Linked DNA regions of Homo sapiens: region 2 is linked to region 1. Evidence: fine-mapped expression QTL. Tissue or cell type: aorta. Region 1 holds a variant in brackets; the other region holds the start of a gene. All regions are shown on one strand. Distances are from middle to middle.

Region 1 (16,468 bases):
CCTTCCCACCCAGAGTGGAGAAAGGACTGTTTTTGTGATTACCACAGAGGCAAGCAGGGAGAGTGAGGCACCTGCACTGGGCATGTGGTCACCATGTGACTGGCCAGAAAGCCCCAGGAGTTGGTTGCAATATGGGAAACCGTGTAATGCTGCAGGGAATATAAATAAGACAGAAGGAATCAGCTAACAGATGGGATTTCTTATCCTTTTTTGTTATGGCAACCAGGTAGGATGTTATAACCTGCATTTTAGTTTTCCCTTCTGCCCGCTAGTCTCGATGTTTTATCTAATTTGTAGTTTTCTTAGTCTTGATATATTTAATTTATATCTTTTACTTTATTACATATATGTCTTGAAAGCTGCTTCAAATCCTCTGTGGAACAAAGTGAGGAATAAATATACAGTCTGACGAGCCTCTCCACTAGTGTCCTTTTTGGAGCGTAGTGCCACAGTATAAGACTAAGTAACTAGGGAAGAAGGATGGCGGAGTGGTCATGCATGCCTCCGCAATACCTTGTCTCAGTTGGTGTGCAGAAGGGGGCACTCAGCCACCTCTAAGTTGTGCCAGTGCTTCCTAGACTCAGGAGAAGCAAGTGAACATGGCTCTGTGTGAGCTGGCAAAGAAGAGTGTCCACCGCAGCTCTTGGCTCCTGGCGCAAAGTCACCCTGTCTCAGGATCTTATTGAATTGTGATTTCATGAATATCCTCATAAAGAAGCCAGTCTATCTTTCTGGAGCTTTTTTCTGGAGCTTCTGGGTTCTCATATTTTATATTCTCAGTCTGAGTTTACCATCTAGGGGGGCAGGGGGACCTATTGTAACCTGCTCGGGTGAATTGAGATACGTCTTATAAAATTCTTGGGTTATTGCAATAGCTTCCTAACTAGCATCTCTGCTTCATTCTTGCCTCCCTACAACCCACTGATTGATCATTAAAAAAATGTAAATCATCACTATGCCACTTCCCTCTGTAGAACCTTGCATTGCTCTTGGCGTAAAATCCATGGTTCTTCCCAGGCTTTCAAGACCCTGCGTGATCTGGACCCTACATATTCTTGTCTCCCTTGTCATTCTTCTTTTGGCTTTCTGAATATGCCCAATGTATTCCTGTCTTGAGTTTTTGCTTTGCTTCTTCAATTATTATTGCTTGTTACAGGATTTTCCTGTTTCTTCATGTAGTAAGTTCTTTCTTATTCTTTAGGTCTCAAATCTCATCTTAGACCTGCCTTCTCTCCCAATCCATCTAAACTGGCTCCATCCCTTTCACTCTGCTCGACCTCAAAATTATCCATCACATCATGCTACTTACATCCAGCATTTACCACGATCTGCAATTATCTTCTTTATTTTCTCATTTGTTCATTATACACCTCTCTGAGCAGTATATAAGCTTCAGAGGGCAGAGACTTGATCTGTTTTGATCTCAGCTATAACTGAGCCACACCTAGCATCTAGCACTGTGGCTGGCATGTAGGAAGTTCTTAATAAATATTTGTGAGATTAATGTATCAATGACTTAAACCAAAAGTTCACAAACTATGGCTCATGAACCAAATCCAGCCTGTTGCCTGTTTGTGTAAATAATGTTCTGTTGGAACACAGCCTATTCACTTACATATGTTACATGATTATGTATTGTCTGTGGCTGTTTTTGGTGCTACCATGGCAGAGTTGAGTACTTGCAACAGAGATCATATAGCCTGCAATGCTGGAAATATTTACTATCTGATCCTTTACAGAAAATGTTTGTTGACCCTTGGCTTAAACCATAACCCTAACAATGGCTTAATCCATATGGGTATTTAGCGTTTCACTTAATGAGAAACAGAAGATCTCAGGGTCAGTTCAGTGGCTCAGTGATGTCATTCAGAACTCACAGTCCTGCTATTTTGTGCTCCTCTGTGCTGGAAATATCTTGCCTCAAAGGTCTAAGATGGCTGCCACAGCTGTACACATGATGTCTTTACACATCAGAGTTGTAAGGAAAAAGGAGTTTAGTGAGAGCAAAAACTGGCTTTCACATGCTCAGCGCTTGCCCAGTGATTGACAAGAAGGTGATTGACTGCCATGATTGGCTTAGATTGGCTTAGATTGGCCGTGATTGACTGCCATGATTAGCTTAGGCCAGTCATGATTCATGCCTTGAGGTTGGGCATAACACTTGTAGTGAGCAGAGAAGAAGGCAGACCTCTGTCCACTTGTATGAATGAAGCATACTCAGTTTCCTCAAACTCAAGGTGGTTGTGATTAAGGACTGAAGTTGTCTACTCTCTCCCCTTGATAGAATTAGAAATGGATGGGCACATTATTACTCTTTTTTCCTTTTCTAGCTTTCAGGGGGATCTTCTATCTAATCCTTCACCCTCTTCACCATTTTCCTCCCACTCGCTCCCAGCCTTGACCATGTAACATAACTTCAGGCAAGTAGATCTCAGCTGACTTCATAACAGTCTCACTTGATTCAGATTTTCCTAAGAGGACAGCCTGGCCTCATTATAAAGATTTAGGAACACCAGTTGGGACTGTAAAATGTTCCCAATTCTATTCCCCACCAGCCAAGTCTGATGCTTTAAACTCCACTATGCAAGGGACATTTTAGTTTAATGCATTGTTGTTCAGAATGTCTCTGTTAAAATGAATGGTATTTTCAAAAGACCATGCATGATGTGAGCTTATGGCTTAATCTCAAAGGTATGACATCACATATCATCTTGGACAACAGAAATCTTGACCTTGAGAGGAGCAGGGAGAATGTTATCATGGAAATAGCACAGAATCATGAGATACCTAGATTCCAGTTCTTGTTTGTCTGTTGCTCTGTTATCCACCTTAGGTAAATTCACTTTCTCTTTCTGGACCTCACCTCCCTCATCTGTTTGATGAAAGAGTTGGATTCAGTGATCTTTGAGGGCCCTTTCAGCTGGTGAAGAGGGATTGGCCACACACTTTGTACAGTTTCATGTCCACATCACTGCCTTCATTCACTCCTTATTTCTTGAGCCATTCTTCCGATCCATATTTATTAAGAACTTTCCATGTGCTAGGAGTTTTCCTGGATGCTGGGAGGGTAGCACTCCTGCTCTCTTGAAGCTTACTGTCGAATGGGGAAGACAGAAAGAGTAAACAAGTAATATAACACCGTGAGACAAGTGTGAGGAAAGAGGAGACAAGATCGCATCACAGGCTCATTTCAGTCCAAGGCAGAGAGGGAAGGTGTTACCTTATACAAGGGGTCAAGTGTGGCTCCCCAGATATGGAGATGTTTGAGCCTGAAGGAAGATTCTGAGTTGACTAAGCTAAAAAAGTGTGGTGGGAGAAGAATCTCTCCAGTAGGGGTATTGGCATGTGTTAAGAACTGTTAGTAAACTGTGTATCATTTATGCTATATCAGGTTCACCATTTCTCAGTCAATTCACTTGCTGTGTGGCCCATTCAAAATGACAATGGAAAGAAGAATCAGATAAATTTAAGAAGAACCTGAGCCAAGTTTATCCAACCAATCACCACTGGGATCACAGTTAATATCTATTTCATTACTTAAATAAACATATACTATACATTTTAAGCATGCCACGTATATCAGATTCATTGCTTTAAAATAGAATTATCAAATTGTCACAGTGTGCTAGGCACTTGGCCAGAGCCAGAGAAGGGAAGTAGAAGAGGACACAGACCATAGTCTCCAGGAGCTCAGAGCTTAGTGTGGAGACAGTTGAGAACATTAACAGCACGAGTACAGTATGTTCCCAGGCACACAGAGGATGCTGACACTATCAGGCTGGGGCCAGGAAAGCTTTCAGAAGGCCATGAGCCCCCTGAACTGAAATTATTTCTTATTTATTTATTTTACTGTGGTAAAATAAACATAACAAAGTTTATTGTTTTAACCATTCTTATGTGTATCATTCAGAGGCATTGAGTACATACACAATGCTATACAACCATCACCACCATCCATCCCTAGAAACCACTCATCATCCCAGACAGAAACCCTGTGCCCGTGCAGCAAACACTCCCCATTTCCCAATCACCCCAGCTCCTGGAAACCTCGATTCTACTTTCTGTCTCTGTGAATTTGCCTACTCTAGACACTTCACATAAATGGAATCACACAGTATTTATCTTTCTGTGTCTGGCTTGTTTCACCCAGAACAATGTCCTTAGGATTCATCCAAGTTGTATTACGAATCAGTATTTCCTTCCTCTCAAAGGCTGAATAATATTCATATATATATATTCACACACCACATTTTGTTTAGCCATTCAACTGTTGATAGACACTTGGGTTGTTTCTACCCTTTGGCTACTATGAACACAGCTGTACAACTGTCTACTTCAGTGCTTGATTTCAGTTCTTTTGGGTGCATACCCAGGAGTGGAATTGGTAGATCATATGATAATTCTATTTGAACTGAATTTTGAAGGCTAAGAATGACCAAGCAAGAGGAAGCAAACACACAGTAGATTAATGCCAAGGGAGGATGCATTTCTGTGGGGTGGTCCACCCATCATATAATCTCTCACTTGTCCCTCCCTCAAAGAGCATGCTGTGTCCCACTGTGGCTGCAACCACCAGCTCAGTTCCTGGTTTCCCTAGAAGTGCGACTCTGGGTTCATTCAGGAAAAGAGGGTGGATCATGGTACCCTGTGGGACATGCCCTCCTTTCCTATATCCTTCCCTACTTCCACCCCACCAAGGAACATCCTGGGTCTTTTCATTCCCCTGCCTACCTCACTGAGTTGTTTTGAAGATCAAGGGGCAGTATGGATTGAAAGTGCTTTATACCTTTTAAGGCAGTAGTAGATATTTGTGGCCATAGCTGTTGCTATTGTCATTGTTGTCCTCTTTGTTAGGACCATTGTGAGCCTCCAGTGACCTCTCCTGGCCTGAGGAAGCAAAGGGGGAGTCATCCCAGCCCCCTGCACAGGTACTTCATCATGGTGAGGAACAGGTTTCTTATTTACTACCAGGTCTGCTAGGCTCATGAAATGAAGCTCAGGTAGAACACCTTCAATGGCTGTGTCTCTACACCACATCCCAATCTCTACACCACACCCCAATCTCTACACCACACCCCAATCTCTATACCACACCCCAGTCTCTACACCACACCCCAGTCTCTACACTACACCCCAATCTCTACACAACACCTCAATCTCTACACCACACTCCAATCTCTACACCACACCCCAATCTCTCCTGACACCAAAGTCTATAATGATAACTGATGAAAACAGAGATTCACTCATCACATCCTGAGACATACAAAGGAAGCCAGGCTGCCGTTTTCACTTAGAGTGTCCACAGGTCTGCATGGGAGAAAATTTCTAGAAATTCTGGAGCTGTAGTCTTCTCCCTCCAAGAGTTGGTTTCCAAAGCTTGGTTTACTTGATTTCAAACATCTAAACCATAGGTACTCAGGAACAGCTGTGTGTGTTTGGCACATTGCTAGGGTCTGTGGGGGTAGAGAAGCCCAAGACATGGGGTCTTAGCCTTCAGTCTGGTCATTGGCTTCATTCCAACGTGCTCAAATGCTTGATGTCTATTTCCTAACACCTCTGTTCCTGTTTTCTGTTATATTCTGCTGTTCTGGGCTCTGAGGGTGACTGCCATCCTCTGCTAAAAGGCTGTCTACTTTTAAGTAACTCCTTTGCTTTCATTTGGGAAAGCTGTCTTTCAGTTACTGGCTGCCTGTCTGGTTTCTACCTATAGTCAATCAAAACACAGGAAACTGTCTGACATGGTATATGATAAGATTCGGAATTGTGTGACACATAAAATTGCCCCAGAGTCCCTGGACCACTCTAGACCTCTGATAGTTAGTAGGGGTCCAGTTTCCCCTTAGGCTCAGAATGGCAAATAGATGCCACTGGGGCTGCATTTCTCTGCCCCCAGCAGACATGGTTAATCCATCTTGGTGCTTTTCAGCTGAGCCAAGGCTTGGCTTCTGACCTTTTCTCAGTGCAAAGCTGTCGGCAGCCGCCATCAATCGATCTGAGTTGGCACTTAGAGTATGTAGCAGACAGCTGGTGTCTCACTCCAATATCCTTTCTGGGCCATCCCCCCAGCTGCTAGGGGTAGTGGGTCTCACAACCCACCATTGCACCTGTCTCCTGAGAATTGTTCTCTGCTGGCCCTGATAGGAGCCACCTCACCAGGAAATGTCTCAGATCTTATGTCTTGACTGATATAGGGGCACAAAAGCCTGATGCCCTTGTCTCAAAGTGGGGCCACTCTGTGATGCTATTTGTACATATTGATATTCCTGGGATCAAGCTGAGAATGACTGTAGCTTTGCTGAGCCCCTCTCCTTGCTCGGTCCCCCTTCCCTCACATCCTTACAGCTTTTGTTTTAGTTTGCTTGCACCTTCAACAGATCACTCACACAAGAATCCTCATCTCAGGGTCTGTTCCTAGAGAAACCTGAGCTAACCTAGGTCATCTGCCATACCTGCCCTGCCTCTGCTCCTATACCTAAGAAGGAAAAATCAAGGACAAGAATAAATTGATAATGTGCAAAGTTTCCCATTCTCTGGCTCCTGTACAGTAAACAAACCATCATCCCACAAGTGTCTTCTGGGCTCTGGACTCGTGCCAGGTACTGTGGTGCGCACTGAGGACACACCAGCACACAAGACCAAGGAGGGCCCCTCCTCATGGAACTTCCATTCTATCTTAGCTTGCTTTTCCTATACCACTTGCATTATCTGTTCCATGTATCTCTGGATTTCAGGTCACCATTGACCCCCTGCTCTGTGTCCCAGTGCTGGCATTCTGCCCTATTCTGACAAAGATCATCTGTCCGATGGTTAACTTAGTCTTAACCTTGGTGTTCACTAGCTGCCGGAGCCTTCTCTGGTTTGCTCTGATTTTAGGCCAGCCTCTATCTCATACCGGGGCATATGTAACTTTGGAGATGGCTGGGTCAGGCACAAGCCTGAAGTGAGGGAAGCTTAGAGGGGGTCAGCATTGTCTATAGTGAGTTAGAATACAACTTACAATACCATCACTGATAACATCCACTTGCATTCAGCACTTTGCGATTTACAAAGCACTTTTATGCTTGCTATCTCATTTGCTTCTCCAACAATCTTGGAAGGTAGACTTAATTAGCTCTGTGTACGTGGTGAGTAAGCTTAAGGATGGGTGTAGATAGGACTGGACTGCGAGCAGGAAATCTCTACCCCGGACCAAAGTGAAGGAGGAGGGTAGAATGGAAAGAACAGAGCAGCTTCTGAAGCATCTCTCAGGAGACAGAAGGTCAAGTAGCAGAATCAAAGACCTTCCACTGCCCTCTCCTCTGTCTTCTGTTCAACTCAGGGAGTAGAAGGTCTTTGACCCTATTGCTTGGCCTTCCATCTCCTGAGAGACTCTTCAGAATCCATCTCTTCTTTCCATTCTGCTGTGCTCTGGTGTTCTCATTATCTGTAGCAGAAGTTTTATAATTTGCAGCTTACAGACCCCTAGAGATTCACGGGAGAGTTTCAGAGAGTTCATAATCCCCTTTCCCCAAATTGAAGTGTATGTCTATTTTTACCTGCAAAGTAGTTCACACATTTCACAAGATCCCCAAAAGCATCTGCAAACCACAAAAGTCAAGAATCACTGCTTAGGTTTTGTGGCCAGGATATACAAAGGACCTGAGATGAGGACGGAGAAAGGTTTTTGATAATATCAAAACATCCACTGCAGATGCAGCAATTGTATGTGCAGGCACAGCTGTGATGTCCATGGAACATCTGGCTGATAAATGAATTTTCCTCTTTCCAGTGGTTTTGAATCATGCAGTGACAGATTTTTAGAGCGAGATGCCTGTTCACTGCTGGGCACTTGATTGTCTCTCTGGGTCCCCTCATTGGTAAAAAAAAAAGCACATTGTGGCTAGGTTATCTTCAAGGGCTCGCCCATCACTGATGTTTTGTGCTTTTGTAAAGAGCCTCAGAAATCATCTCTTTCAGGATCTATTTAAAAGGTTGCAGCATGCAGTGGCTAAGGGTGGGTTTCTGAGCTAGAAAGCTCAGGTTGCAATCTCAGCTTTGCCTCTTGGTCAGGTTTTCTCTCTGGGCCTTGGTGAAATGGTGATAATGATGGCAGCTTCCCGTAGGGTTACTCTGAGGAGGACAAGAGTCAGTCATGTGAAGTGCTTAGACGAAAGCCAGCCACACAGTAGGCACTTCATCTGAATAAGTGTTGACTTTTGTGTAATTTGCACATAGAAGAGAGAACTGAAGGGTAATAAGTAATTTTGAAAAGGTCAATACAGTGAGAAAGAACAAGCCTCAGATTCTTGATTCCTAGTCTGTGCACCTCCCTGACTGCTACACTTGCTATGGTTCTTCATTTCTCCAAAGACTGAAGATTATTCTCAGTATCTGCACAGCCTTAGAAAACCCCATTCCCTAGGCCTGCTAATAAATCAATATTCAGGGAGTTTTAAAGACCTCTGTAAGGGCCAGACAGCACCTAGTACTATTATTTTCTATTCAAATTTTCATCCCTATTCCAGCCAAGTCCCAATGTCCCATCTTTGGACACTGTCCCATCAGGAAGATCCTGCTGTGTCTCAGATGCAAGTCATCTTGCTAGATCTTAGCTCGCGTTTCCTACACCATTTGCATTGTCTGTTTCATGTGTCTCTGGATTCCAGGCTGCCATTGGCCCTCCACTATGTGTCCCAGTGCTGGCATTCTGCCCTATTCTGACGTAGGCCATCTATCAGATGGCTGACTCAGTCTTAACTTTGGTGTTCACCAGCTGCCTGCTTTCAGAGCTGTCTCTGGTTTGCTCTGATTTTAGGCCAACCCCCATCTCATACCAGAGCAGGTACGGCTCTGGGGATGGCTGGATCAGGTGCAAGTCTGAAGTGAGAGAAACCCAGTGAAGGTCAACATTGTCTACAGTGACTTAGAATGCAACTTACAATACCATCACCAATAACATCCTCTTGCATTCAGTACTTTGCAATTTACAAAGCACATTTATGCTCACTATCTCATTTGCTCCTCCAACAATTTTGGAAGGTAGACTTAAGTAGCTCTGTTTAGGCTGGGCACAGTGGCTCACACCTGTAATCCCAGCACTGTGGGAGGCTGAGGCAGGCGGATCACGAGATCAGAAGATCGAGACCATCCTGGCTAACACGGTGAAACCCCATCTCTACTAAAAATACAAAAAATTAGCCAGGCGTGCTGGCGGGCGCCTGTAGTCCCAGCTACTCGGGAGGCCGAGGCAGGAGAATGACGTGAACCCGGGAGGTGGAGCTTGCAGTGAGCCTAGATCGCACCACTGCACTTCAGCCTGGGCGACAGAGGGAGACTCCATTTCAAAAAAAAAAAAAAAAAGAGCTCTGTTTAAGCGGTGAGTAAGCTCAGGCCTAGAGAAATTGAGTAACTTGGGTAAGGTCACACAATTTTTTTTTGAAAAAGTAAAATTGATGGCGAGGTGCAGTGGCTCATGCCTGTAATTCTAGCACTTTGGGAGGCCCAGGTGGGATGATCACTTGAGCCTGGGAGTTCAGACCAGCCTGGGAAACATAGCGAGACGTTATCTCTACTAAAAATTCAAACAAAAAAATTAGCTGGGCTTGGCGGCAAGTACCTGTGGTTCCACCTACATGGGAGGCTGAGGCAGGAAGCTTGCTAGAGCCCTGTAAGTTGAAATTGCAGAGAGCCATGATGGCACCATTGCCCTCCAGCCTGGGCAAAAGAGCAAGACTTTGTCTCAAAAAAATGAAAAATTAAAAAAGGTAGAATTGAAAACCAGGTCTGTCTGACCTGAAGTCCGTTTTCTTCCAGCTATGCCACAGCTGGGACGTCAGAGGGTTATTAGGTCTGGAGTAAGTGGAAAGAAGTCAGCTAGTTTGGGAAGAGCAACAAGATCTCAGGAGACAAGAGGGCTAAGGCTGGGAGCCCGGTTGTTCTAAGGCACTACAGTGTGACAGAGTACACCTTAGAGAGTTGGGCTTCTTTTGCCTTCCCACTTATGTAGCCTTTAACTGCGTAAGAAGCATTGGGAGCCTCAGCTATAGGGGCTTTTATTTCTGTTTCTTCATTTCTTGTCACATCTCCCAGGAAGTTCTATTGTGTCACAGAGATGAGCATAGGCTTTAAAACTAATCAGATCTGAGTTTAAATCTTTATTTTATGACCAAGAGATATTGGGTAAGTTACTCAGCATCCCTGAGCTTCTGTTTCTTCATCTGTAAAAATGGAATAAACACATCTGCCTTGCAGGGGGGTTGTGAAAATTAAATTAAATAATGATGCATCGTTTTCAGGAATACTTGGGGTGGAATGACCCACAAAGGGGTTTAACTTCTTGGCCAGAGAAACCCAATGGGCCTTCCCATGAGAGGCTGGGCCCAGGCCTCAGCTGTGTCTTGCCTTCTCTGGGCTCTACTTATTTTCTGGAGCCTCTTCTGTTGCAAGCTAAATAGTTCCTCCCCCTCAGTAGAGTCTATGCTGTTTCCTCTGGCTACAGACTCTATAATGCTCCTTGCTTAGCAGTTGCTTAGCCAAGCTGGGCCA[A/G]TTAAGCTGCATTCCTCTAATTGTTTTGGTGGCTTTTCTCGGAACTCCCTCCAATTTGTCTACAAATCAGTTCTAAATTTAGACCCACCCGCCAAATCTTGGAGCTCTGAGCTTTTCACTGCTCTAGCCAACCATGAGGCTCTTCTACCATCAGTGATTGAGTTTGGGGGTGGTTCTCTTCCTCTCTCTCTTCTCCTTCCTCTAATTATCAACATGTAGGCATGAAATGACTTTGTGACATGCTTTATTTTGTTTGTAGAGTGCAGGTCCATATTCAGTTACCAAACAGTTATTCGTATTTAAACTCCCAGGAAAATGATGGTAGAGAATTAAAGGTGGGATTAATTTAAATGCACAAATTATTTTTACATTCCAAAACTGCACAGAGAAAACAAACCAATTTTGATATAACGGGGGAGAAAAGGTAAGAGGGTAGGAGCAAGAATAAAGTTATTTGCTCTCTGTGTTTTTGTGCCTCACTCCCTGCACTTTTTCTACCTTCCCAGTTTGCATTCACCAAAGTATCAGCGCCCCCGGCCTTGGTGTGTCTAACACAAAGAACCTGCAGTATCTTTGTCAGGTAGATAGGACCCTCCCAACCCCCAGGAGACAAGATTTCAAAGATCCCTATTCTCCCTCCTTTTTTCTCTCCCTCCTCCTTCCTTTTCCTTCATCCTCTTCTCCTCTCTTCTTCCTCCTCCATGTCAATATCAAATTCATTGCCACCAGCCATCTTTTATGCTAACAGAGTGGCTTATGCTCTTGAAAGCCTTTTCATAGACACAGTCTCATTTGAATTGTACAAGAGTCCTGGGCAGGGCCAGAGCGGGTACATAGACTCCGTTTGACAGATGAGAAAAGAGTACTCCAGAGAGGTTTAGCAACTTGCACAAAGTCAAACAGCTCATGGATGAGCTCTCAAAAAGACCCAGGATTTCTGGCTTCAGCCTTGGTCACAGCTGGTGCTCTACAAACATTTGTCAGATGAGAGAATTCTGATCTCACTGCTGGCTAACGGATCAGATCAACACAGCCAAAGGCTTCATGACAGGCTGGCAGGCTGGCAGGCTGGCAGAGAAGCCAGAATCTTCCGTTGTCTCAGAGCTTCATTCCCATCAACCCAGCGGACACCTGTTGACTGTTCCCAGAAAACCACTGCAGACATGTTTCTTTGTTGTCAGCAGAGTCCCCATGGACATCTCATGAGTCTTTGAGGATGCCCACAGGGCCCTGCAGGGAAGGAGACATGATGGCTGGCTGGAAGAAATGCCTCCACAGGTGGCGGAGAGTTTTTTTCACCTACTGTAGACTCCAAGTCTCTTTCTCTTAGGGCCTCAAAGGCATGTTAGCACATACATTTAACAGCAAGTGCTTGGATCTAACAATATTCTGAGTGCATAGGACATGTAGAACTGACAATCCTGCTTCCCTGTATAGATGACATGTCCCTGCTCTGCAAAATGGGCCTCTCACTTCTATATATATGACTTAGCTTTTTTTTTCAAGAATCAGGTGGGATAAGGAGTTTAAATGAGTTTACAAAACAGAAAGTTCTATATAAAATAGATGATAATTCTATATAAAAACTCCTTTGTTGCTGTAATTACAATAATCCTAGCGGTAAAGTTGACCTTAATACGTGATGGAATCAGCGATGGAAGAGACTTTAGAGTCACGTTTCCCAACCCCTGAGTTTGTGGGTGAGAACACGAAGCTCCAGACAGAAATGATGATCCCACAGGGCCACACAGCAGGTGTCAGGAGGGATAGTTTTAGAACTCTGTCTCCCGGCTCATCCCCTTGTATTCTGTCCTTTTGTTTTGGATGCTGTTTGTAACATCTATTTTTCTTACCTTAATTTCTCCCTCTTTCCTTTTCTTTCCCAAAATTCAATACGTGCAGAATGTCTTCCAAATACTCCTTATCCACAACCTTTTCTTTCTCCGAATGTATCTATTTTATGTCCCATTACCTCACAATCTTGTGATGTTGCTTTAATAATTAATGAATCCATGCTGACAGGTTAAAAAAGAAGAAACCACAATGACCAACTGTGCCACTCCACCCAGAGAGCATTTCATTTCAATAGACACCTTCACATACCTCCAAGAAAGAGAAATGACTATTCATGAAATTTCAAATTCTGTGGCACACCATTTGGGATTTTCTCCAGATTGCACATTGATTAGGGGGTTCATCTCGCTTTTAACTCATGGTTGAATATGTGGCTGCCTTCTCTTATTGGCTAATTGCTCTAACCTTCTGAGCTCTGTGACCCTGACTGATGGCACTGGATATTTCCACAGCCTTGTCCAAGGAGGCCTCCACCAGCAGGGCTGGTTTCTGACACAGAGTGTTTGCAGGTTATTCCATATTCTTTGGGTCAAGAATGGAGCTTGAGCTTCTTTCTGCATGTCAGTAATTAGACCCAATAGGTTCCCAGTGAGTGTGCATGAAATTGAAGGGTGGTGTTTCTTCAGGATGTGTTTCCTGGGTGAAGACTGTATGTGAAAATGTCAGGGCTGGTATCAAAAGAGGATTTAAAAAGAAAATTTTACTCAAGGAGAAGAAGCAAATGGACAGACAATTCCCCACTTGATGTCAGTCATCTGGTTCCTCTTTTCCTTCCCAGCTGGGTCATGGACTTTGCATCTTTTCTTGCATGTATAGAGCCTATTACAGATCCTGAAATTTCAGTGTTCAGTGAATACCAGTGCTGGGCTGTAAGACATTGGTGCCTCCAGGACAAGGAAGGATGTGCCCCACAATCAAAGAAGGGGGACAAGAAAGAATGAGATTTCAGAACTTGGAGGACTTCATTTCAACAGTTTTGGAAATTACCTAGTCTAACCTCCCTCAACTACTTTGTCAGGGAGTCTGAGACTGCCTATAGGGTATGCAGGAATGTGTCTTGCTGGAAACAGATAGCACCATTTGGACTGTGTGAGTGTGCATGCACCTTACGCAATCAACAAAGGGCTGCGCCTGTATGCACACATATGCCCATCTTCTCCACAGGGTGGACAAGCCCAGGACAAGCATCCTTCTCTGTAAAATGGAGCCTTGATATCTGCACTGTTTACTTCACAGGGTTGTGAAGAGGGTCAGTAAGATCATGCTTTGAGACACATAAGAAATATTTTTTTGAAAATGTGAGTGAAACCTTGGTGTGCATGGGATTAGGTGCACAACTAGAGGAAGCTGTGCTTGCTAAGAACAGGCCTATTTTGTGGTCTGGGGAACAAAAGATACCTCTTGCCCTCAACACACAACCCTGAAGGTTGGGGAGGCCACAGCCAGCTGGGAAGGGAGAAAAGGAGCCTGATGAGGTATGTGGATGAGGAGGTTGTGGTGGACAAGAAGGGATGGCCCTGTCTCAGGACATGTAGGAGGCTGCCTTATCTTGAACATTCTCCAGAATAACGGGAGGTCACCTGGGGTGCTGAGGTCCTCAAGGCCACCAGGTCTGGGGCTCAGAACTACCGGGGCTGAGTGTTTGTGTATGTAGATGACAGCTGGCAGATGTGGAGTAGCACATGGGTAGGAAAACAGACTAGGAGAGTGAAAGACATTTGGCTGAGGCTGCATAATAGGATGTGTAAAGTGAGGGACTGAACACAGGCCAGTGTGGCTCCAAACCCAGGATACTCTTCCCAGCATCACAAACAGAGCAGTGGAAGAGAAGAGGGCTGTTCTGTGCTGAGGAGACCTGAAGCCCAAGGAACAGGCCTTCCCTGTGCTTGGGATGAAGAAGGTAGTGGCCTCTGATTGCATCCTTGCTCCTCTGGGGAGGGTTGGTGAGCTCTACCACCCTTCTAGAAAGGATGGCTCAGACTTCCCACTACTCTCCTTTTTCTCCAGTTTCTTTCTCCAGTTGCTCAAGTTCAAATCCTTCCTGTAACCCTTGATTCTTCTTTTTCTCTCCTTGTGAGCTGTTCATTTGAAATATGTTCAGAAACTTAACAGTTCTCGCCATCTTCACTGCTGCCATCTTGTCCAAGCCCCATCATCTCTCTCTGGTCTCGTGCATCTCTCTGCATCCACCCTTACTGCCTGTCATCTTGTCTCTGCACAGCAGCCACAGGAATCCTTTTCATGGGTAAGTCAGTTCCTGCCTCTCTTCAGAGGGAAACCCCAAAGGCCCTACTATTATTTGAATGTGTCCCCCAAAGTTGATGTGTTGGAAACGTAATTATTGCAGGAATGGGCTCCTGATAAAAGGATGGGTTTGGCCTCCTTTCCTCTCTCTTTTGTCCTTGTGATGCCTTCTGCATGTTATGACATAGCGAGAAGGTCCTCACCAGATGCAACCCTTTGACATTGGACTTCCTAGCTTCTAGAACCATGAGCCAGAGAAATTTCTGTTTATTATAAATTACCTGGTCTGTGGCATTCTGTTATAGCAGTGCAAAACTAACACAGAAAATTGGTATTAAGAAGTGTGGCTATTGCTATAACAAATATCTGAAAATGTGGAAATGGCTTTGGGACTAGGTAATGGGTAGAGGTTGGCAGAATTTGGCAGGTCAGGCTATAAAAAGCCTATATTGCAATAAATGAAGCATTAACCCATTTATGCCTGAGGTGGCAATTTTTTTTAATTTTTGCAATCAGACCTTGGTGATGACCTTGAGTGCTAGGATATAAATAACTACCACATGCTTAGTGTTCCAATAATGGAACACTAGGCATAATTAAGGGCAATTCTGGTGAGGGCTCATAAGAAGAAAAAAGTCATAGGGAAAGCCAAAATCTTAGCAACTACTTGAGTAGTCATAATCAGAATGTTGGTAGAAATATGGGTGGTAAAGGCCATTCTGAAGAGGTCTCAGACAGAAATGAGGAAGAAGACATTGGAAACTGGAATAAAGGCCATCCCTTTTATATAGTTGCAAATAACTTGATGACACTGAGGACAATGGACTTTGTGGAAGGCAGAACTTAGGAGTGATGAACTAGGATATCTGGTAGAAGAAATATCTAAGCAGCAAAGCATTCAAGGTGCTGTATGGCTTCTTTTGGCCACTTACAGTAAAATGAGAGAAGAGAGAAATATTTTAAAGATGGGATTTATAATTAAAAGGAAAGCAGAAAATACAAATTTTGTAAATGTCCAGCTTGGCCACATAAAGAATGAAAGAGTATGTTTAGGAAAGCAAACTAGGGTGTATACAAGTGACCATTTGCTAAAGAGACTAATAGAATAGAAGGGAGGCAGGGGCTATTTACCAAAAGAATAGGAGAAAGACCCTGAAGGCATTTCAGAGGTCTTCCAGGATGTCCTTTCCATCTAGGGCCTTGAGAGAAGGGTTTCCAAAGAAGTGCCCAGAGGACCTCAGCATTCACTGCCCTGCACCACCTTTGGGACTCTGCTCCCCACATTTTGGCACAGTACTCTTTGGTTGCCCCAGCTGTGGCTCAGGCAGGCCCAAGTGCAGCTCGTACTCCTGCTTCAGAGGTACACCTTGGTGGTGTTTACAGGGTGCTATTTCTGCAGGTGTGCAGAAAGCAAAGCTGTGGAGGTATCGTGGCCTCTACTTAGATTTCAAATAATGTATTGGAGAGCTTGGGAGCCCAGGAAGAGAACTTATCCTGGAGTTAAGTCACTGCAGAAAGTTCCCACTAGGGCAATTCCTAGTGGAGTCATGGGCATGGGGTACCCAGCATGCAACTCCAGCCTGGGAAAGCTGCAAGACAAGACTCCAACCTGTGAGAGAATGAGTGGATTGAGCCTAGCACAGCCATAGCAATGGGGCTGCCTGAGGCGTTAGGGGCCCAACCTCCACCCTTGTGTGCCCGGGATGCAGGACATGGAGTCAAAGCAGATTATTCTCCAGCTTTAAGACTTCGTGTTTTCCCTGCTGGTTTTTGGACCTACTAGAGACCAGTTACCCCTTTCTTCTTCTCTATTTCTCCCTTTTGTAATGGACATATCTATCCT
Region 2 (16,468 bases), 33 kb before region 1:
ACAGCATGGAACACATTAAAATCTCATTGCCCACCGCTTCCCGGTAGCCTCTGCTGCCTCGCTTCAAGTGCTGTTTTATAAGCAGTGTTTGCAGAGAGTTAACGAATTTGAAGGGGCCCTGAAAGGGAAAGGGCCTCTGTTGAATAACTTTTCTCTTACTAGAGAAAATGAGAGATGGTTTTCCTTATAACCCAATTTCCAAAGCCTTTTATTACAGAGCGTCAGGAAGATTTGCCTCCTGCCAGGCTGAGTGGGGCTGGGCCAGCTCCCTAGAGAGCTTAGAGATGGTTGGATGGCTGCTGGAGGCATGGAGGGTGGTCAAACTGATAGAATCAATACAATCTTCCCTCAGTAACACAAAAGACCTTTGCCAACTCATGCTTTTTGCACTGATTTTTCTCTCCTGAAACCATGAAATGGGAGGTAGCATGTAGCATGATGGAAAAGTAACAACAGGGACTTGGTGTCCAGCAGACGTGGGTTCCAGTTCCAGCTCTTGCACTTTCTGACATGACTGCAGTTTCCTACTTTGCAAAAGGAAAGACAATATCTGCCTGAAAGGCTGCCATGAGTGAGGGTGAGACAATATGTAAAGTCCTGGTACATTTAGACTCTCAACATCTCTTCTTGTTCATCATAGATACTTTGAATATTTCTCAGCCAAAGATCAACCAGTGGGATTTGTGCATTTTTTGAGGTAACAATTTTAGGGCAGTGATTTGTCAAAAGTTACGTACTGAGTTCCAGACAAAGCTGGAAGCCAGATGGTCAGTGGAACACTCGCGTCAGGTATTCTGTTAGTGCAATGGGCATGGCTGTTAATGGTGGAAATGTTTCCCCAGGGAAGTGCTGCTGGGCTCTCTTGCACCGCCCTGGAGCTGGGAGGGGAAATGCATTTGCAGTGGGTCTCTTCTCCCTCCCAACTGAACCCTGGGCCCACTGGACAATGTCTGTAGAAGAGGGGCTCTGAGCAGCAGGGACATTTGAGTCACTTGTTCTTTGGGGCTTAGGACTGGTCAAGAGAAAGGGACTCCTAGAGTTCTGGCAATCCTCCCCTACCCTGGAGTGGCAGAGGCCCTAGTGGAATTGGAGTCCTTTAAGGAAACACCAAATCAATGCAGTGGAGGCACTGCATATAATCTGAAGGGTAGGGGTCTTCTCTGGGGCCAGTGAAGGTGTTGCTAAGAGGGTGGGTTGAGATAGCACTAAGCTGACATGTGAACAGGTGGTAACTGAATATGTGGTTTATTTTGGGCTTTAGAATAATGAGTCATATTCATAATAACCAATTGAATGTTTCTTGCCTCAGAGCTTCCAGAGACCCCAAGACAACAGGTGTCACAACTTAAAGGGGTAAGACTTGCAAAGAGAGGTAGAATAAACAGCTTTATGTCTCATCACCTCTTCAGCTCTGATAAAGGAGATTGTTTGGGAGGCAGATCCTTTATTATTACTATTATTATTATTATTATTATTTTGAGATGGAGGTCTCTCTATGTTGCCTGGGCTGGCCTTGAACTCCTGGGCTTGAGCAATCCTCCCACCTCAGCCTCCCCAAGTAGCTGAGACTGCAGGCGTGAGCCACTGTGCCCAGCTGAGAAAGCTTCTTTAATACCAGATAACCTTTATTGAGTTCTTTCCATGTGCCAGGCATGGTACTATGTGCTTTCCATCTTTAACCCAATTCATTCTCACAACATTCAATTATGTGGTAGTAGATATTATTATTATTATTATACCTATTTTGGTGATGGAGAAGCTTAGGCTAAGACAGATAAAATAACTTATTCTAATGTCTCACACATACTAATGAGGCTTAAATGACTGTATGAAGCACTTTGTAAAGCAGAAGGACCCAGCAAAGAACTTTGATTGTTCTGCATGAGGCAGGTAGACGTTGAATCTGAGTCCTTCGTTTTTTCCCCTGCAGTTGAGTTCTCTTCCTAGGTGCAATTCAAGCATCCAGAAACAGCAGAAATGCTTAGGATCAATAAATTGGGTGGCAGTGCTGTTAGGCAGTAAACTTAGGGGAGAATTACACAGGGCAGCCATGAAGACCCAATTCTCTAATGCCTGGGGAAACACTTTGCAAATTGGTCGGTGATGTTTTTAACTGCCTTGGATGGTTTCCTATGAGTGAAATTGTTCTGTTTGGAAGGTGGCTTTAGTTGGAGACAGTGTTATTTGATTGTGTTGAATTCAGTTTGAGTCTACACAAATATGACACAGAGTCTCTGTCCTGAGTGGGTTTGAAGTTTAAGTGGGGGAAGGGAGAGAGATAGTAATGGAGTTAGACTATTTTAGCATCACTGCTTATATGTGTGTGTGTGTGTGTGTGTGTGTTTGCACGTGTGCACGTGTGGTGGATGGGGATCAATTGAAGGGAGTGACCATAGAAGGGCTATTGTAAAATAAATGAATCTCTACTATGTCAATAAGATAGGCTTAGGGGAAGGGGTATTTCAAGATGTGGGAAGAGCACATGCAAGGATCCAAAAGGGCCTGGGGTTGCCAGTTCAAAGACCATCAACCTATGTACCAAGCCCTGCTAGTGTCTGTGGCTAGGATCATTTTCAAGTGGTTCTTCTGTCTTCTGTGCTTTTTGAGGAAGAAGTTGACAGGCAAGGGAGGTGGGTCTGAAAGGAAGGAATGGCCAACCTGGCTTCAAAAGAAGCACCACCAGAGGGTACATACAGTCCTCACCACCAGGGAGGATCTATGCCTGAGGCTGGCCGGGGACTGAGCTGGGGGAAGTAAGGCTGAGTGATATTTCATATCTTTCCTTACTGAGAAGTGACTCTCAGTGAGACTTTTAAGACTGAAACACATCTGAAATGAACTCCCAGCCACACTAGACCATAAATAAAAGGGAAGGAGCCTCTCACATATCAAGGTGAGGCTGAGGGTTTTAAATAAATTTTTATCCCAGTACTCTCAATGACTCTGCAAGATACCCATCATTATCTCCATTTCTAGGTGATCAGTAAAAAGTGGATTTGAAGATCAAATCCAGATCTGTCTGGCTCCAATGTCTATGTCTCAAATGCTCATCCTCTCCATGTCTCTTCCGGGTTTCACAATGGTCAGATGTCTCAGAAAGTTATGGGCACGCGGGTAACAGAATGGTCCGTGGCTACCTAACCTACTATTCCCTGAGTTATGCCTGTAGTGCCCTCCTAGCTAGGTCCCACTTATGCTTTTGGTCCGCTGCTGATTAAATGAATGGATTTAGAAGGTACTTGTTTTCCAGTGTAGACGGAGTAGTCCAAATTCTTGTGAAATAAGGACAATACATGTCCTATTAACAGCTGACACCAAAATATCTTTTAAGAATGATACTATTTGTTTGGAATATAACACATTCTTGGGGGTGCAAAGTGAGACCCCCCAGCAACATGTGTATGAAGATAACTGTTCTTTGAGAGGCAAGGTAAAAATTTGCTTGCTACTCTAGAAAGACAGGAAATGAAAAGTGGAAAAATAAGAGGTGATGAGGAGAGAGAGATGGTGAAAAGCTGAGAGGTGCAGGATGTGACAGCCCAAACTTTGAGCTCATGAGTTAACCCAACTCATGAAATTCTTGGTCCAAATGACACTGTCATAAACCTATGAAAGGATGGAGCTTATGCTCAGGTTACCATGGAGTAGAAATTGGACCTCAGGTGTGAAGATCAGGAACCGAGATAAGGAAATCCAGGAGGATGTCAGCAGTCAGGAATTCAAAGCAATCATGGAAAGAACTCTGGACTCCCACAGGCCTTGATTTCGGGGTTTGAGCCGGTTTAAGTACATTTTCAAGGGATACAGGGACTCTAGCTGAGTTCTACCAAATTGAACTTCTAGCACTCTCCAGAGCAAGATGAGATTCAGCTCAGATAAAAGCATTCTGTTTTCCAGGACCTTAGAATCCAGGTATATAACGAAGGCTACCAGGAAGGATCTGTTGATCATAGCCCAAGATGCCTCTTGGAAAAGATACTTATTTGAATATCTTAAAGATGACAGCCGCCCATTCCTGCAATGTGATCCCACAGCAATGTGGACACTGGTTTCCCAGCAGCTTCATCATGAGGTAGACAAGTGTAATGGCTGAGAGTAAAGGTCAGAGCCAGAGATTAAGGGTCTGTGGGTGCATCATGGTGTTACCACCCTAAGGCTATCAACCCACCTTGGACTTCTGCCAAGGGGAGAGGAGACATGGGGAGAAGAGACAATCTTAAAGAGCAAGTTACACAATGAACTGAGTAACTGGAGTTCCTAGAGGGGCCTAAGGCATAAAGCAGAGATGCCTTGGAGTTTAAGAGCCCTGACAAGATGTGGCATAGCTGCCTCTCCACTCACCTTGGCTTGAGAATGACAGCACGTGGGAAAATCTGAGAGCTGGGATGATGTTACAGTTGATTTCTTTCCTGTCTCTATGACCTTGTAATGCCAAGGAGCCACTGGATGACAATTATTTACTTAGAGCTTAAATACGTTTAAATTCAGAAAATTAAGCACAGCTCTCTTCTAGGTGCTTCAGCAAAATTTTAAACTTTTGTGAAGCATAATGAAATAGATTCTGCTAATCTAAAGGTTTGTGGCTGCATCAGACACCCAAGTTTGGTAATGAGTGAGGCCTCTGGAGCTAGAAAGTCACAGTCATCTTTGAGGGAAGAACTTTGTGGAATTTGGAGGTATATGTATTAGTGTTTACAGGTAAGCTAGCCAGTGATGACTATGATGATTTTTCTTTCCATCTGCCCTTTAGTTACCTACATAAAAAGAAGCCATTGATCCTCTCAGCATATTTCCATTTCCCATATTCCCCTAAGTTATTCCCATAAGCATATCTTAGCAAATTCTGCTAGCAGTAGAACATGTCTTGGTCTGTGAGAGGTGCCTTAAGTGTAAGCACAGGTGAGGGAGGAATGGTGGAAGACTTTCTTGCAATTAGCTCTTCCTGTTCTATGCAAGAGCCCTTCTTGGACAGCTGCTTTTGCAGCATCTGTCTCTTTGTTATCATCATCACATTAGCTAGTATTTGTGGAGCATCTTAAGTGGAGCAAGCACTATGCTGACCACTTTCCAAGAATATTTCTACCTTACTTCCTATAATGTGGTAAATATTCCCACCTTATTCAGTATAAGGTGGCCTTTTTCCTTTTTGGTCTCCATTTTACAAATGTTAAGTAACTTATCTAGTCCCTAGCAAGTAAGTGAAAAACCAAGTGTAGTCTCAGGTCTATATTACTCTAAAGTCCCTGCCCTTAATCTCAGAAATTGTTTCCTAGTCACTATCCTCAGAGAAGAAAATCATTGAAATAATTGTATTCATTCATTCATTCAACATCAACTAAATACCTACTATGTGCTAAGTGCAATGTTAACAGTCAAGACTACAAAGATGAACATGGCATGGTCCCTGACTTTAGGAAGCTCATGGTCTAGGCGTGTAAGTAGATGTTATAAAAGAGAATAATAGGATAATTGCAAGCATCTCAACAGAGCATTATGGGAATACTAAAGAGGAACCATTCTGCATTGGTGGAAGGAGGAGTGTTAGAGTTGAGAAAGAAGATGAGCCTTAGAATTCTTGAGATTAAAAACTAAAAATGAAACTCAGCTTGTCCAAGACATATTTCTGCAGGGTTTGCCGTCTGACTATATGATAACACCAATGATCTCATTTTTCAAGACAAAAAGTTAAGCATTTTATTTACACATCCCACTCTATTATTCTCCATATCCAACTCATCACTATATTATACTAAATATCCCTCCTAAAAATCTTTTGAAAACATCTACTTATCTCCAGAGGCATAGCTACCATCCTAGCATAATCTATCATCATTATCTCTCACTTGAATCTTGGCAGTAACCTTCCAACTGGTCTTCCCATTTTCACTCTTTCTTTGAGCTTCCTTTTCTCTGCAAAGACTAATCTGTTACTCATTTGGACCATATTTTTTCTAGTAGAAAATTTACATTTATAATATATATTTTAAAGTCTTTACTAAACCCAACATTTGGGCCTTCTTGGTATCTATTTCTATTAAAGATTTTTTTCTTGCGTATGTGTAGGGTCCAGCCCCACAGGGTTGGTGGGTTTCTCCCCGTGTGTGGAGACGAGAGAGTGTAGAAATAAAGACACAAGACAAAGAGATAAAAGAAAAGACAGCTGGGCCCGGGGGGCCACTACCAGTCCGACCCTGTGGGGCTGGACCCTACACTATGGATCAGAGTTTTCTATTTTTATTCATGTTTAGTAATTTTTGTTGTATCCTGGACATTATGGATGATATGGCATAAATATTCTGGGTTATGTTATCTTCCTCTGAAGAGTGTTCAGTTTTGTTCCAGCAAATTGTTCAGTTTCTGGCTGATGACCTTGAACTTTTAGAGATTTGGTTTTATGCTTTGTTGGTGGAGGAGGAATTCTGTGGTGTTCTCTAATCTCCTCTAACTTCATAGTACTAAAATTTCAAAAATTCCCAGTGAATCTGGTTGAGGATTGTTTTTAGACTTTATTAGAATACATCTAGTGTAGTCCTTACTCAAGGACCAAGATCAGCAAACTTTCTCTTGAGGGCCAGATAGTAAACATTTTAGGCTTGTGAACCATATGGCCTCTGTAGCAAATAATCAGCTCTACTACTGTAACCTGAATGTAAATGAATGGGCAGGATGTGTTCTAACAAAACTTTGCTTATAAACATTGGTAGCTGAACCAAGAGCCATAATTTGTTGACCCTGCCTGAGGACATGATCCTTACTGTTGTTGTTTTTTTTTTAGACGGAGTCTGGCTCAATCTCAGCCTAATGCAACCTCTGCCTCCCAAATTCAAGCAATACTCCTGCCTCAGCCTTCCAAGTAGCTGGAACTACAGGTTATGCACCACCACGCCCGATTAAGTTTTGGATTTTTAGTAGAGATGGGGTTTCACCATGTTGGTCAGGCTGGTCTCAAACTCCTGACCTCAAGTGGTCCACTTGCCATGGGCTCCCAATTACAGGCATGAGCCACCATGCCTGGCTGACATGGTCCTTATTCTTAAGGCATGGCTTTCTGATGTCTTAACTGGATCTCCAGGTGTTAACAAGGCCTCTACACTCTGACTGAGCAAGAACTCCAGTATCTTCTAGCACTACTTGACTTCTAGTATTTTTGCTCCACTCTCAACCTCATAACAGCCCTTCCTGGTAAGCTTTTATGCCTTCTCCCTGTGTCTGTGCTGTCCATGACTCCTACCACAAAGATATCTGGGGCCCCCTTCCTCACAGCTCCCCACTTTATCATGGCCTACCCCACAGATTCCAGTCACTTCAGTAGTCTCAAAATCTGATTCCTGCTTCTGGTCAGTGGGAATGTCATGCTCTATATGGGCTCTGCCCCTCTACATCACAGCTAGAATATTGTCCCTAAATGAAGAACTGAAAAAAATGAGATCTCACTTCATAATTTTCTTTTTTTTCAAAGGTCGTGGTCTTGCCATTGCCATTGCCAGAAAGCAGTTTCCTTATATATTCTGCCTAGTTTTGTAGTCACTTATGGCAGAGGGCTAGCATAGTGCCAGTGTCTCCATTATTGTCAAAAGCAGAGATCCCCACATTCATACCTGCTCTTTTCAATGTATTTTCTACTCTGCAGCCAGAGTGATATTTCCATCTGATCATATCCAGTGCCCTCTTTAAGATTATTCAATGACCCCTTATTGCTTTGAAGATGACATGTAAGGGACAGTATGGGTTTTTGCCCATCAGTAAATTCCCAACACACAGTGTAGTACCTGCCTTATGATAGCTATGTCTATGATATAACTATTTTTGAGTAAGTGAATGAACAAGAAATAACATTTTTGGCTGACAGAACAACATAAGCAAAGGCAGGGTAGCATAAAATAGTATGGAGAATAGTGAACTATTTGGTGAAATTCCAACTCAGGATGCTGACTACAAATTACTCAAAGGCCTCATGTGCAGAAAATGTGACAATTGAAGCCCATGTTACTGTACTGCCATTTTTTTTCAATCACCAAAGGCCTTAAACCATTTGCTCAGCATGAAGCTCTTAAGATGAATACAGCTGTCGAGGCAAGGCAAGGAAAGCTTTCTTGGACCTCGGTTGGCTGTGTTCACAGACAGACAGATGGACATGTGCGCAGGCAGAGGCAATCATCAATTTGCTAAAAATAACACCTCAACCAGTTTTTCACAGAAACCCTAAAGGAAGAGAAAACAGATCGATAGCAAGCATACCACTTGTGTGATGTTGACGTCCTCCCTGATCAGAGAAAGTGAAATCACCTTGGAGACCAAGTTCTTTCCCAGACAGTAGAGGAAATGACTAAGGCAACTGCTACTTTGGAACCAAGGGAGGCCCCAAAGGACTTATGAGTTGATTAAATAAATCTGACAGGAAATTTTAGATAAGGAAAATTGGCATTTATGATACTCAGGGAAGGGAAAAGCAGGATTTGGGCAGCAATGTATCTAGGACCTTTTCGAAGGAAGATTTTTTTAAATGTTCAGAGGAAAGCGAGGTGTGGGTCTGTGGTTTGAGACTCTGGAAAGAACTCAAATGAGGTCAAAAGTTCTCCAAAATATAGTTTCAAAACTGTGCCCTAGAAAATACTCCCAAGGTGAAAGAAGCAACGAATGTGACCATGGAGGTTAGCAGGAGACAGAAATTCACATTTATTGGGTATCCTCTGGGTGAGGGCAGACTGCTTGGGGCTTTCCATGAGTTAGCTCATGTTATCTTTATAATAACTCCATACGTTAGGATCTATTATTCTTATCTTAGAAGTGAAAAACTGAAGCTTAGATAAGTTACAGTATCTGACTGAAGTCACACAACTAATACACAGCAGAACTTCAATTCATACCCAGATTTATCTAATTCCAAAGCCCATAGACCTTCCAAAATACCACATCGCCTCCCTGGTGTGCATCCTGTTTTTTTGTATGCAGTAGTAGGTGGCATACTTCTGGGCAGTCTAAATTTTCAGAGGTCAAGCCTTTCTGTTTCCTGGGCCATAGGGTAATGAATGCAGTGTTACAGAGAAAAGGGAGCATCGTTATGACGAAAAGGGAGATTCTCATTTCAGAAATGAGAATGTTAGGCCCACTCATTACTGGTAAGAATTCTTTCCACTTCCCCACTCATGAAGGCCAACACTAGAATTTATGGATATATGTATGCATATATGTCATGGCCAAAGGTCAAATTCCAGCTTTATCCTGGAGTCCGGAAGGCACAGGTATAACATCCATGCCTGTGTGCTTGGCTTGACATGCTTGGGTTTTAAAAATCAATTAAAGAGAGGCTTTGATCTAACATAGAACTGATAGCACTGGCAGGTGCTCTCTAAGCTTAGTTTCTTGCTATGCAATGCAACATTTATAAAATTCATTCCCACCTGTAGCAAGGCAACCCCACTTTACATTTGTGAAGGGTCTTCAGGAAGGCAAATAATTAGCTTCGGTGATAGAAACAGAAGACTGAACAGAAACAAAACACAGAAACTCTTGTTAGTGGACTCTTCTTCCACTGTCTGCATCGTTTGGAGTGCTGCAATTTGTAGAACACCATCCATTTTCTTATACACTTTGGTGTTTTTATTCAGACAGACATAGGGGGCGTGAGCTAGAACATATGCTGGTGTGAGTTTGGATGTGTGTATTGAAAGAAGAGCAGGCAGGAGCCTGGAAAAAAATATGTGCAAATATGGCAAGGAGCAGAAAGCCCAGCGGGAATTGCTGGTTTCCTAGCAATCAATGACCAATTTCCCTTTGGGGCTATTCCCAGAAGTGCAGATCACTTCAAAAATAGATGCACGTCTTAGTTCAGTGATTGACGTTTTTCTACCAAGGACTGTGTGCACAAGCATCCCTCTAGTGAGATCTTAAGATCTTGGATTTGAGTATTCACATTCCTAAGACTCCTCTTCGAAGTTCCCTCCTCACTTCCCAGACTTCTCGGGTTTTATCTCAGGATAGCTGTTCCAATCCGGAGTGATGAAAGGATTTCTTGCAGGGAATCAGTCAGTGGCAGTTGTTGTTCTCAGGACATTCAGAACCATCCTCCAAGACTCAGCTCAAAGGCCGCTTCCTTTGTGAAACCCTCTTCAACTTGTACGGGCCAAATGCCCCTTTCACCTTTCTCTGCACTTTCAAATTTGACATTTTCTTGTAACACATTTTTTTTTTTTCTAAATGGCTGTTTTTATGCAGGGGCTATCTTTCCCAATACAGTAGAAGCTTCTTGGTTCCATCTGATTTATCTCTGTCGCTTTCTGGTGCCAAGCACAGACCTAGTGTACGCTAGGTGCTTAGAAATGCTTGTTAAATGATTGAACAAATATACAGAGCCTCAGAGATTTCTTATGTGCTTTCAAATTGCCATTCCCATTCCTAATCATCAGCCTTGTATTCCCAGCTTGGAAAAAAGCAGAAGAATCACTGTCTAGGACCGATGGATGTCATTGCTGCATCAGTGTAGGACGTGACATGCTACCTGTCCTGGAGGGCCACCACCAGGAGAGAGCACGTCACACTCTTGTGCATCGGAGTGAGTCTTGCCTGATAAGGGAAGTCACTCTTGGCACCTATCTCTTGGGAAAAAGGAGCGTCTCAGACCAGAGCTGGCATGTGATAGGCTTGGGGGCTTCCTACAGGAATGGGACTCTAAGGCTTAGCCTCCAGAGGGTTGATATGTGAGGCAGCTCCTGGATAAGATGGCACCAACTACTTGGAATGGACCCAGCAGCTAGCTAGGAGGTAGGGGTATCAAGCAAGGGGCTGGATGGGTGGCTGCCTCTGATGACATGTGGATCCCACACTCAGACCACAGGATAAACTGGGCCTGAGTGTCACCCTCTTGATTCATTTTCTGCACTCCCTTAGTATTTAGGCAACTTCCCTGCATACCACAGCCAGTTGCAGCTGCTCCACAGGAGAACCACAGGATTCATGGGCTTAGGCTAGTGGGCTCTAGGAGGAGCTGTTGCAGGGAGATTGCTCAAGGGAATGGGAACTCTTGGGCCAAAGGAACCATGATGGCACAGCCAGCCACCCGTCAAACTGGGGAAGCTTCCCTCTAAAGCTTAAATCTCCAGAGTTTTGCTACTTAAAATGATGAGGCTTTCTGCTCAGACCTTCTGATAAGTGGGAAGACAGTGATACTTCAGTTAGCACAGGACAAGAAGGGAAATGACATTTGCACAGTATTTGTCCTGTACCAGACACTTTACATGTCTGCTAATCCAATCTGCTCAGCAGCCTAATGATGTAGATATTATTTTTCCTGTGTTATGGTGGATGAAACTGAAGCCTAGAAAGAAGTGACTGCTCACAGGATAAACCGGGAATTAAATCCACGCTTCCTCATTCCCAACCCTGGCTCCTTCTGATTCTTGCATTTGAGGCATCTGTAAAAATGTATAGCTCTACCTCCTCCTGCTCCCCATCCCCAGCCCACCACTGGAGCATTTTTCACTAAATGCTGAAGGTACTCTTGGCCTTTACCTACTTCTTATTTTTCTAAGCTGCATGGCCTCAGGTCTGCTCCTTGGTGATTCCACCTGAAACTTCTGGAGTGCATCAGGCTGAATGAGAAAAAGCATTCAGCCAGATCCAATCTTGTAGCCACTGCTCCCAGTTAAAGAACCAGTGAGGGGCCAGACTGGAAATGATCTCAGAGACCATCTAGTAGAACCCCATAGCTTTTAATATGGCGAATCCAAGGCCACATGGGGAGTGACTTGCCCAAGCCCATCTGTAGCAAAGGAGATGGGTGGGATGCTAGAGCCAGGTTTCTCCTGGCCACCTGCCTTATTTCTTGGATGCTTTGACCAGCAGGATGGGCTTCCTTTCACTATTGCCATCTGGAGAGCCAAGTCTGCATTTGACTACAGACATGCATCTCTAACTCTGGTACTCGAATATTTCTTACGAGATTAGATGGCTAAAGTAGAAATCAGGGCCATAGTCCTGACACTGGAACCAGGAGCTCCCTGCAGGAAGTCACATATTCCTGTGGTGGGAGGAGCACCGCGGCAGCCCCCCTGAGGAGGTGAGGCTGAGCTGATGCCCTGCACGGTCTTGCATGGCTGAGATGAACCGGATAAAGGTGCATTGCTCTGAGACACACAGACACACTGCCTTGTCTCTGTCTGTCTTCCTCTCTCGTTTTAAAGCCTGCATCCCTATCTCCAAGTCAGCAATCCAATTAGTGGAGATTTTTAAAGAAAACCTCAATATTGAAAAACAGAAGTCTCAGTTAAGGAGGCCTGCCCTGACTCGTTAATCCACCGGTCAGTTTGCAATGGATCAGGTTGAAGTTGGCTTTCCCCACCACCTCCAGGAGTGCTGATTTAAGGGGATCAAGCCCTTAATCCCAGAGATTAGGATCTTTGCCAGCAGCACCAGTACAGTCCCTGGGTCAGTGGAAAGTCACATAAAGTACAAAACTCTGTTTGGGTTTCCTGAGTTAATTATCCTTTTTATTTGTTGTCTTTCTGCAAATAGGAATATCCAAAGGTTGCAGAGGCTATCCATGCCCCTGAGGAGCAGCATAATGGCACTGCCTGCCATGCACACCTCGAAGTGCCAGCAAGCCACCCCTAGCCTGTTGGGAGCAAGCCCCCCAAAATCTGGCCATAAACTGGCCCTAAAACCGGCCATAAACAGAATCTCTGCAGCACTGTAACATGTTCATAATGGCCCTAACGCCCACGCTGGAAGGTTGTGGGTTTATGGGAATGGGGGCAAGGAACACCTGGCCTGCCCAGGATGGAAAACTGCTTAAATGCATCTTAAGCCACAAACAATAGCATGGGTGATCTGTGCCTTAAGGACATGCTCCTGCTGCAGTTAACTAGCCCAACCTATTCCTTTAATTCGCCCATCCCTTCGTTTCCCATAAGTGATACTTTTATTTAATTTAACATCTATAGAAACAATGCTAATGACTGGTTTGCTGTTAATAAATACGTGGGTAAATCTCTGTTCGGGGATCTCAGCTCTGAAGGCTGTGAGACCCCTGATTTCCCACTTCACACCTCTGTATTTCTTAATTCCTCTAGCACTGCTGGGTTAGGGTCTCCCCGACTGAGTTGGTCTCGGCACTAGTCTGTGTCCCTGGCTTGCCCTTCCCTCCAACTCTGTCCTGCAGGATCTCTCTCTCTCATTAATAATAACTAGCTTTTCCATATGAGCCATCCAACTCTGTCGGCTGGGAACTTCTACCCTCATTGCCTTCTTTGGGTTTTCAGACAGTTATAGGAGTCAGAGCAGATATTCAAATTCTCATTTTACAGGTGAGCAAGTTGAGGTTCTGGGAGGACATAATAGTTAGTAGGTGGCAGGGCTGGGACTTGAAAGCAGAACTTCTGCCTCCATATCTGTGCACACAGCACCACCTCTGCAGTCCCTGTACCATGATTTTCTTTGTGCCTTGCTCTCTGTTGTTTTCCAGAACAGTCCTTAGAGGTAAAGTGGACACTTCATCTGCCTTACCAGTGCCCATGCACGTCCTCATCTTCCTTACCAAGAGAACCCAGAACTGGTTCAGAGATCCAGGCCTCCCACCTCAGGTGACTCCACCCTCAGACTGATCTGAGGATAATCCCATTCCCCCTAACAATGGGAAGGGCCATGTGAACCAATTCTGGCCAATGAGAGAGGGAAAAGAGTCTGTTAGGAAACTTAGGGAAAACCTCTCCTCTCTTCTAAGAGACTCATAAGAAGAGAGCTTCTCTTCCTCCTCTGGACGCTGTCCTGTGTGTAGCACTCAGGACTGCTGAAGACATCTAGGTAACAGCTTGAAGGTGAAACCAGCACTGAGGTTTCCTGATTCCTGGGTGGAGCGCAGACTGGAGCCTAAGCCCTGACAGCATGGTGAGTGTTGACTGTCACACCTGGGGCTGATTCTGAACTTCCCATGATGTGAACTCAGGAGTTTTCTTACTGCATATGCCTGTTAGAATGTGGCTTCTCCTCTTGTAGCTGGGAGCACCCTTCCTGGCTGGGATCAGCCTGCAGGTGCGCTAAGCCCTCCTCACTCAGCTCTCCCTTCCCTTACGTCTTTCTCTGTTACTCTGCCTCTGTCCTTTTGTCAGGAGGGCTTATACATGAAGGGGAACTTGAAGTACAGAATAGATGGGAGTTCTGCCTAGCTCAGGACAAATACTTGGAATACTTGAGATAATTGCATTTTGTTTGTTTGGTTGGTTTTAGTGTTAAGATTCTTTGTGGTGGCCATATTACAGCCTTGGGAATGGTAGATCCTTTTATTTTTCCTATAAAGGAGCCACCCCTTCCACAGTCCCTGCTGGGCCCTTCCCTCTAACCAAGGCTCAGCTGATTGAACCAGGCAGGAACACCCAGCTCCAGAGAGAATCATCTGGGCTGCCAGCTGTCCATACATTGTGGCTGCTGTTAATAGAAAAGATGAGTAGGCAACTACAAGTTTGTCATCTGAGGACTTTGAACTAAGGGCACAAAACATGTTATTAGCCAGTGGAGAGACAGACATACACAGACCTGGGAGAGCATGGGCAGCTGGATGTGCTATAGTATATTCCCCCTTACAGCAGAACAGTCATAGAAGGTTTGCAATGCTCCTGAGCCACCTGGAACCCCAAAGCTCTTTCAGGTCCGGGCACAGTAATCTCTATCTCCAGGATTCCCTTTGCCACCCACTCCTTGTGATAATCTCCCATGATTTAAGATGTCTTCCCCCTGCAGCTAGACACCCATTCCCTGGCATGACACACAGGGCCCTCCGTGATCTTTCCTGACTGTGTCCCCTGCTGTCTCAACTTGCTCCTCTTAACTGCATTGCCTCCACTCCTCTACACATGCCACATCCTTCCATATCTTCCTGCCTTGGTTTGTGCTATTCCCTCTGCTTGGAATGCCCTTGCTCTTTTTCCCCTGGTGAGATCATGTTCATCTTCCAGAACCCAGCTCCTGTAGCTCCATGATTCTTTCAAGTAGATATGAGTATTCCTTTCCTTGTTTTCTCTTGCATGTGTTCATTCAAAATTTATGTATTTAGTGCCTACCATATGTGCTGTTATGACTATGAAACAAGGCTGGAGGAGGAAAGAGTGGCAGGATTGGGGTGGCTGTGGTGGCTGCTTTAGTGAGGGCCATTGGGGAAGTCTCTGAGCTGAGATCTGAAAGCGGTGAGAGAGTGGCCTTATGAAGGTCTGAGAGAAGACCTTCATTTCTAGCAGAGGGAACAGAAAGGTGAAAGCCCCAGGGTGAGAACAATTCTGGAAAGGAAGACAGCAAGCGTAGCTGGAGTGTAGAGAGTGAAGGTGCGTCAGAAAATGGGCAGGGATTAAATTATACAGAGCTTGATAGCCTCACTGGGCCACTGCAAAGAATGTGAATTTGGTCTAAGCATGAAGGGAAATTCCAGGGAAGGGTATGAGAGGAGCAAGTGCCAGGAACTGATTTGCATTTTAGAAAGGTTCATTTGGCTGCTGGACAGTGGGAAGGGAAGAGTAAAAACAGTATTCCAGGCAGGATGGTGTCTCTGGAGGGAGAAGCGTGGCAGGCCTGGGGCCTCCTGTGGAGGGAGAGTCAATAGGACTTGTGGACAGGCTGGTCGTGGAAAGGGAGGGCAAGGGATAGACTGGAATTGAATCTCAGATTAAGGCCTGAGCAATTGGGTACATGGAGGCACCTTTTACTGAGATGGGAACAAGTGGGGGAGTGAGTTTGGAGGTAGAGGTCAAGAGCTGGGTTAGGACCTAGAACTTGTCAACCATACTGCAAGACTTTGCTACAAGTCCCAGACTCCTTGAGGGGAGATTCCATGCATTTTTTTTTTGGTCTCTCTCCCCCACTCTACATAGCGCAAGTCTTCAGAAAAGAAGATACTTAGTCCATTGTTGATGAAGGCTTTGACTTCCACAATGTCCTTATTACTGAAAAATTGCAAATGGTACATGGATATCCTTCTTTTCATTACCTTACTTGGTCACCACCAAGCCATTTTGTTTTTATATTTGATTACTCTTCAAATGGCAGTAACATCATCCCTCAGTCACAAGTCAATCTGACCTCCCTCCACACCTATGCCCTCCTTTGGTCCTCTCACAGTCAAACATGACCCAAATGGGTGCCAGGGGAGCCCTCCAGTTAGAGACTTGTGCTGGCAGGTGTTCCATTAGCATACCTTGGTTCAGGAAGATGTGATAGCTTGTTCCCACTGGGTTATGTCAAATTGACCAATCAATCACCAACCATATACTGAGCACCTTTGATAATAAGCCCTTACCTTTGGCTTGCACTTTATAGCTTACAAAAAGCATTTTTATATATCCGCTCATTGGACTTGTGCAACCAACCTCTGAATTGATGAGGCAAGGTCTCTGGATATTAAATTCCCTATTTCATTTCAACTTCCACATCTTGCAACTAAGGGTCTTAAATAAGACTGTTCCCTCTGCCTGGTGTGTTCTTGTCCCTC

Alleles and levels. Alleles are on the strand shown, and positions count from the first base shown. SD is a standard deviation of normalised expression in the study named.
With allele A in place of G in region 1, the expression in aorta of the gene that starts at base 6,967 in region 2 is lower (moderate effect, 0.63 SD a copy in GTEx).

What was found.
Region 2: ASIC2-AS1 starts here. The variant in region 1 is fine-mapped to the expression of ASIC2-AS1 in aorta (GTEx, PIP 0.95).

What each region holds. Positions count from the first base shown.
Region 1 is chr17:33,585,503-33,601,970 of GRCh38, forward strand. It overlaps a transcript of ASIC2 not described here. Among named protein-coding and RNA genes, the nearest start is that of ASIC2-AS1, 35 kb to the left of the region's middle. The variant A/G (reference allele first, on the strand shown) is at 10,528.
Region 2 is chr17:33,552,041-33,568,508 of GRCh38, forward strand. It overlaps ASIC2-AS1 (ASIC2 antisense RNA 1), which reads left to right and starts at 6,967. Exons shown (of 4, transcript XR_001752838.2): 1 at 6,967-7,182; 2 at 13,460-13,881. LOC112268206 (a long non-coding RNA gene) reads left to right here. Exons shown (of 3, transcript XR_002958160.2): 3 at 6,776-6,797. It also overlaps a transcript of ASIC2 not described here.